2 linked regions of the Homo sapiens genome follow. The protein of the gene in region 1 purifies or fractionates together with the protein of each later gene. This does not show direct contact. Each region holds a gene or a part of one and is shown in the gene's direction. Other genes may lie near its edges.

What was found.
Region 2: the proteins of DDX24 (region 1) and KRR1 purify together in Homo sapiens (affinity purification with mass spectrometry; 3 studies listed by BioGRID and IntAct, with this or other methods). This does not show direct contact.

The regions. Positions count from the first base shown.
Region 1 is NC_000014.9:94,071,203-94,074,702, reverse strand, and holds part of DDX24 (ATP-dependent RNA helicase DDX24), read left to right. Parts: intron 1-3,500. UniProt on the Homo sapiens protein: ATP-dependent RNA helicase that plays a role in various aspects of RNA metabolism including pre-mRNA splicing and is thereby involved in different biological processes such as cell cycle regulation or innate immunity.
Region 2 is NC_000012.12:75,498,110-75,501,609, reverse strand, and holds part of KRR1 (KRR1 small subunit processome component homolog), read left to right. Parts: exon of another isoform or gene 1-1,658; coding exon 1,659-1,801; 3' UTR 1,802-2,631; coding exon of another isoform or gene 2,632-2,786; 3' UTR 2,787-2,889; coding exon of another isoform or gene 2,890-2,916; 3' UTR 2,917-3,500. Other genes in the region: GLIPR1 (glioma pathogenesis-related protein 1 precursor), read right to left, coding at 2,632-2,786, 2,890-2,916. UniProt on the Homo sapiens protein: Part of the small subunit (SSU) processome, first precursor of the small eukaryotic ribosomal subunit.

The DNA.
Region 1 (3,500 bases):
TAGCAGAATTTTGAATTGTAGTGGTAAAGTGGGCATTATTGCTTTGTGTTTGATCTTCTGGGGAAAACATTTAGTCTTTCACCATTAAGTCTGATCTTAGCTGTAGGTTTTTTGTAGGTGCTTTTTATCACGTTGTGGAAGTTCTCTTTGATTTCTCATTTGCTGAGAGGTTTTATCAGGGTTGGATGTTGGATATTTTTCAAATGCTTTTTTACTGCATATATTGAAATAGGTGGTTTTTCATTTTTAGTCTGCCAATGTGGTGAATGACATTGATTTTCAATTATGAAATTAGACTTACATTCCTGGGATAAACTGAACTTGGTCACAATATACTATTCTAATTATATTTTGTTGGATTTGATTTGCTAAAATTTTGTTGAGAATTTTTGAACTTATGTTCATGGGATAGTTGTAGTTTTCTTGTAATGTTTTGGTGTTGGAATCAGTAATGTAGCTTCAGAATGATTTCTGAAGTATTCTGTTCAGTTTTCTGAAAGAATTTATACAGGATTGACATTTTATACCCAACTTAAATTTTTGGTAGAATTCATCTGAGCCTGCACTTGTCTTTGTAGGAAGATTTTTGACTACAAATTTACTTTGTTTAATAGATTAGAGATATTTGTGTTACTTATTTTTTTCTTTTTTTTTTTTTTTGAGATGGAGTCTCGGTCTGTTGCCCAGGCTGGAGTGCAGTGGTGCGATCTCAGCTCACTGCAAGCTCTGCCTCCTGGGTTCACACCATTCTCCTGCCCCAGCGTCCCAGGTAGCTGGGACTACAGGTGCCCACCACCATGCCCGGCTAATTTTTTGTATTTTTAGTAGAGACAGGGTTTCACCGTGTTAACCAGGATGGTCTCAATTTCCTGACCTCGTGATCTGCTCGCCTCGGCCTCCCAAAGTTCTGGGATTACAAGCATGAGCCGCCACACCCGGCCACTTATTTTTTTCTTGAGTGACTGTTTTCTACTTGCAGTTCTATTAGTTTTTGTTTCATGTATTCTGACAATCAGTTTATGTGAATACATGTTTTATGGATTAAAATATTAGATTATTATTATATCCTCTAAATGAATTGGCTTGTTATCGTTATGAAATGGCCCCCTTTATCCTTAGTAATTTTTTTTTGTTCTAAAATGTCCTTTGGTATTGATGCAGCCAGTCCAGCTTTATTGATTAAGGGGTTAGCATGGTATGTGTTTTTCAATACTATTACTTTCCCTTATTTATATTTAATGTGAATTTCTTATAGGCAGCATATAAATGGGTCTTGCTGTTTAATCAGACAGTTCGTGTCTTTGAGTTGAATTATTGAAGCCAGGCATGGTGGCTCACATCTGTAATCCCAGCACTTTGGGAGGCCAAGGCATGTGGATCACTTGAGGCCAGGAGTTCAAAACCAGCCTGGCCAACATGGCGAAACTGTCTCTACTAAAAATACAAAAAAATAGCCAGGCGTGGTGGCATGTGCCTGTAGTCCCAGCTGCTTGGGGGGCTGAGCCACAAGAATTGCTTGAACCCAGGGGGCGGAGGTTGCAGTGAGCTGAGATTGTGCCACTGCACTCCATCCTGGGTGACAGAGTGAGACTCTATCTCAAAAAAAAAAAAAAAAAGAAAAGAAAATTAATTGAGTTACTGAGATTATTTACGTTTAATGATTATTGATAATGGTGGGTTTACTTATTTATTTTTTGACTGATAGCATACCTGATTTATTTATTTTTTTCACATTTCTGTTTTTTATTTTAAATTTTTTTTTCCTTTTCTATGTTTAGATGTTTATTTTTAATTTTTTTAAATTTTTCCATAAGTTATTGGTGTACAAGTGGTATTTGGTTACATGAGCAAGTTTTTTTGTTTGTTTGTTTTTTGAGACGGAGTCTTGCTTTGTCACCCTGGCTGGAGTGCAGTAGTGCTATCTCAGCTCACTGCAATCTCCACCTTCTGGGATCAAGCCATCCTCCTTCCTCAGCCTCCCAAGTAGCTGAACTACAGGCATGTGCCACCATGCCCGGCTACTTTTTGCATTTTTAGTAGAGACAGGGTTTCACCACGTTGGCCAGGTTGGTCTTGAACTCCTGAACTCAAGTAATCTGCCCACCTCGGCCTCCCAAAGTGTTGGGATTACAGGCGTGAGCCACTGTGCCAGTTTAGTGGTGATTTGTGAGATTTTGGTGCACCTATCACCCGAGCAATATACGCTACACCATATTTGTAGTATTTCATCCCTTGCCCCTCTTTCATTCTTCCCCCCAAGTACCCGGAGTCCATTGTATCATTCTTATGCTTTTGCATCCTCATAACTTAGTCCTGCATATCAGTGATAACATACGATGTTTGGTTTTCCATTCCTGAGTTACCTCACTTAGAATAATAGTCTCCAGTCTCATCCAGGTCACTGCAAATGCTGTTAATCCATTCCTTTTTATGGCTGCATAGTATTCCATCCTGTATATACCACAGTTTCTTTATCTACTCGTTGATTGATGGGCATTTGGGTTGGTTCCATGATTTTGCAGTTGTGAATTGTGCTGCTATAAAATTATGTGTGAAAGTATCTTTTTTGTATAATGACTTCTTTTCCTCTGGGTAGATACCCAGTAGTGGGATTGCTTGATCAAATGGTAGTTCTACTTTTAGTTCTTTAAGGAATCTCCACGCTGTTTTCCATAGTGGCTATACTAGTTTGCTTTCCCACCAGGACATAGAAGTGTTCCTTGTTCACCACATCCATGCCAACATTGTTTTTTTTTTGAGATGGAGTTTCGCTCTTGTTGCCCAGGCTGGAGTGCAATGGCGCAATCTCGGCTCACTGCAACCTCTGCCTCCCGGGTTCAAGTGATTCTCCTGCCTCAGCCTCCCGAGTAGCTGGGATTACAGGCATGCGCCACCATACCCAGCTAATTTTGTATTTTTAGTAGAGACGTGGTTTCTCCATGTTAGTCAGGCTGGTCTCAAACTCCCGACCTCGGGTGATCCGCCCATCTCGGCCTCCCAAAGTGCTGGGATTACAGGTGTGAGCCACTGTGCCCGGCTTTTTTTCTTTTTTTAAGTCAAAGGCTCACTCTGTTGCCCAGGCTGGGGTGCAGTGGCACAATCTTGGCTCACTGCAACCTCCGCTTCCCAGGTTCAAGTGATTCTCCTGCTTCAGCCTCCTTAAGTAGCTGGGATTACAGGTGCCTGCCACCATGCCCGACTAATTTTTGTATTTTTAGTAGACATGGGGTTTCACCATGTTGGCCAGGCTGGTCTTGAACTCCTGACCTCAGGTGATCTGCCCACCTCAACCTCCGGAAGTGCTGGGATTACAGGCATGAGCAACCGTGCCTGGCTGCCAACATCTACTGTTTTTTGATTTTTTGATTATGGCCATTCTTGCAGGAGTAAGGTGGTATCACATTGTGGTTTTGCTTTGCATTTCCCTGATCATTAGTGATGTTGAGCATTTTTTCATGTTTGTTGGCCATTTGTGTATCTTCTTTTGATAATTGTCTATT
Region 2 (3,500 bases), on another chromosome or scaffold:
TTTCATTAATTACTAATCCTAAGGACAAGGGATGGCTGAGATAATTTATAATTTAGAGGCAGCTAATGCCTATTTCAGTGCAAACTGGATTGACAGTCCTCTCCTGACCTCTGGTCTGTGCTTGGAAAAGACTCTTTGTTGTGAAAGATACAAACCCAGGGCAGCCAGTGCATCTTCTGTAGAAATGCAAGAAGATCCCTGAGCTCTGCTGTCATGCCTCTCAAAGAGGAATTATCAGAAGTTGTACTTTTTCTTCTCTTTATGTGATCTTGGCTTAGAGTTTGGCTTCTATATCGGTAACATGGATTTCTCATCACCTTAGACTAAAGGATGCTGACAGGTCTTATTCAGGAGCTATTAGTGCGAAAGTGATTGTGGTTTTTAAATGGCAGAAATCACTTTCGCACTAACCTAGTATTTAAAAGACACTAAGAGAAAACATTGTCATGCCATTTCTTCTGATGCATCCTCTTCTGCATTTTTTTCCCCTGTGGTAACACTTATCCTCTTCCTAAAGTAACCCTCCAAAGTGAACAGTGACACACTGAAGGGAGAGGGCTCACCAGCAATATTGTACATAGACTGGGTCAGAAACAGATATAATACATTATTATTTTAATATATTGCTTGTTAATAGCTTTAAAAATACTACATTCTATGGTAGATTATTGGTTATATAAAAGGTAGAAATGTCATAAGTATTATAATTTCCAGTCTGTAAAACCTGTCAGTTGAGTGCTTTGAAGGTACTCAATATACTCAATAGCTAGTTACCCTAATTTAGTTTCTCCACACGGTGGAGGCTTTAACACTCTGTGCTTCTCAGGTTGCTGGGTAGTTTGATGTTTTATCTTATGATTCTTTTATGCTGTGATCCTGTACTTTGAATGGTAAGAAAAAGTTGCATTCTTTTTCACTGCTTCCTTTCTCTATTTTGTTCACACTTTTGGCATTGATTAGATAGTTGGCTTCTATTAGGGGGACTTCCACACACTCTCAAATTATTGTCTTTATTACCAAAATGTTGTTAAATATACCAAAATCTTGTTAAAATACTATTAATTAGTCATTCATTGAATTAATATTCAATGAATTAATCTAACATTAAATGAATTAATTCATTGAATATTCAATTAATATTGAATTAATATTTGGAAAACTTTAAATTTTCGTTTTGATATTAGAGGAAGTAGATTTTGACCTCTAGCTTAGGGTTAGCTGATTAAACTTATTGAGAAGGGATACATGTAATTTTAAATTATTTTAATGTGCAAGATGGAAAATAATGACTCAGAAGTTCCAAAATATGGAAAAGAATGTAGGTAAAATAATTTAGTCTGAAGTAGGATTTAAGGAAATAGTCTTAATATAGTTGAATCCAGTAATTGGTTCAATTATGCCATTTATGCCATTTTTATGTATACTTGTACTAATATATAAAGTATTTTATGATTTGTTTTATCTTAATCTGAAGAAATTTCTAACTGCTTTAGGCAAGTGTTTTTATATTTTATACTGTGATCACCTTTCAATTATTCAATTATAAGAATACTCTGAAGTTAACTGCCTTAAACATATATTCTTTGTTAAACATATATTCTTTGTTTTACTTGGTAAAATCTAAAGTATTACATGTGTTGTGCTTTTAATTTGTCTAGCTTCTACTGAAACTAAAATTGATGTGGCCAGCATCAAGGAAAAGGTTAAGAAAGCAAAGAATAAGAAACTGGGAGCTCTTACAGCTGAAGAAATTGCACTTAAGATGGAGGCAGATGAAAAGAAAAAGAAGAAAAAAAAGTAACATACCCAAAACTCCTTGACTAGAACTATCTCCTTTTGTAAAGGATTTTGAGATATCAGGCATTAGTTGCCTTATTTGTGAGAAATTTTCTGAGGGCTTTTTTTTTTTTTGGTGGTGGTGGTTGTTCATAGAAGAGTGTTCTTTATAAATTATATTATTATTGTATTTTTTGAAAAATTTATACGAGAAAGTGGTATATAAGTCTTTGTATACATTACGACCATTGTGATTATCCATTAAATCCAGTGTCTGATGCTATTGGTTAGTAATGATGTCCCAGCATTTGATGTTCCCTCTCTAATGATAACAAGTAAATATTTAGGTTTATCCCTTTTGAAAGTTTGGTTTTACTTTTAACAGTCCATGAACAGAAAATTAAGGCCTCTAAAATCAGATCCCCTAGTTACTCCTCTGTTCTGAATCTGGGGAAGTAGTAAACCAAAAAGACAGGGAAAACCAGATATTTAGAGTCGAAGCAGCATGCAAAAAATAATAATGTTTTTAACTAATGAAGGCTACTGGAGTTACTAAGAATCACCTAAAAATGTGCTACTGTACCTTGCTCATTTTGCAGATTTAGAAGCTGAAACATGGGTTAGGTTACTTACTAAAAGTCCACCTGTGGCAACCTGCAAATAATGCTTATTTATACTAAAGATGAGTTTATCTGATAGAGTTAGGAAATTTCTTCTTTTGAGTAAGAGTATTGCTATAACATATATTTTTTTCTGAAATGTTTTAAAATAGAAGTACACCTAATTGTTATTGGTTAAAAAAAAAGCCATATGTGAATGAGGTTGGTTTTTGGGTTTTTTCTTTCCTGAATTGTATTAGTCCAAAAGAACTAAATTAGGGTACTTGTGCTGTACCAAAATGGTAATTATAACAGACAGTATTAGAATTACTGAATTAACAATGAGAAAGAGAGAAGTGTATCTGTTACGTGGATATATGGGCCAGCCTGGATATACAACAGAGTAGTAACCTGTGAAACAAACATAGAATATCCTCTTAGACATTGTTCCTCATAATGCACTGACAGAATTCACATAGCTCTTAATGAAACAATTTAAGATTGATGTACGTACGTTTGACTTGGTCTCGCTGTCGGTTAACTGTAAAGTTAGGGGGAAGAAAGAAAAAAAATTAAAAGGGTAGACACAGTTGAGAGTTTTATTTTAAAAAGCTAAGTCTTATAATTATGACCATTAACTTGCTTTGGCTTTATTGCAGTGACTTTCCAAGTTTAATTATTCAAAACTTTTTGAACTGACTGAATTAACTTGGTATTTTTAAGTTGACTTTTTACATAAACTTTATAAACCTTTTATAAAAAGGAAACTATACCATTACTATAAATGGAAAATCATTTTACACATCATACCTAGCAGGTAATAAAATTTAAAAAATAAAAATTAAATATTAGAATGTGAGAAATTTATTAAAATATAGTTCTAAAAATAAGTTTCTTCCTGAGAAGAATGATACTGTTTATGATGAATCCATAGTGAAAAGACAGTGACCTCTCTTTCATCCAGTCTAGTATATCACTAAATCATCATTACGATGTTTGGCTATCAAGTCATTAATTACTGTCCTCCTTTCACTGAGCTTTATTCAAATTTTGACAATCAGAGCACTGGGAAGAAATAAATTCCACAACTGCCTTTAGCCTTCTGGATACTTTCTTTTATAAAAT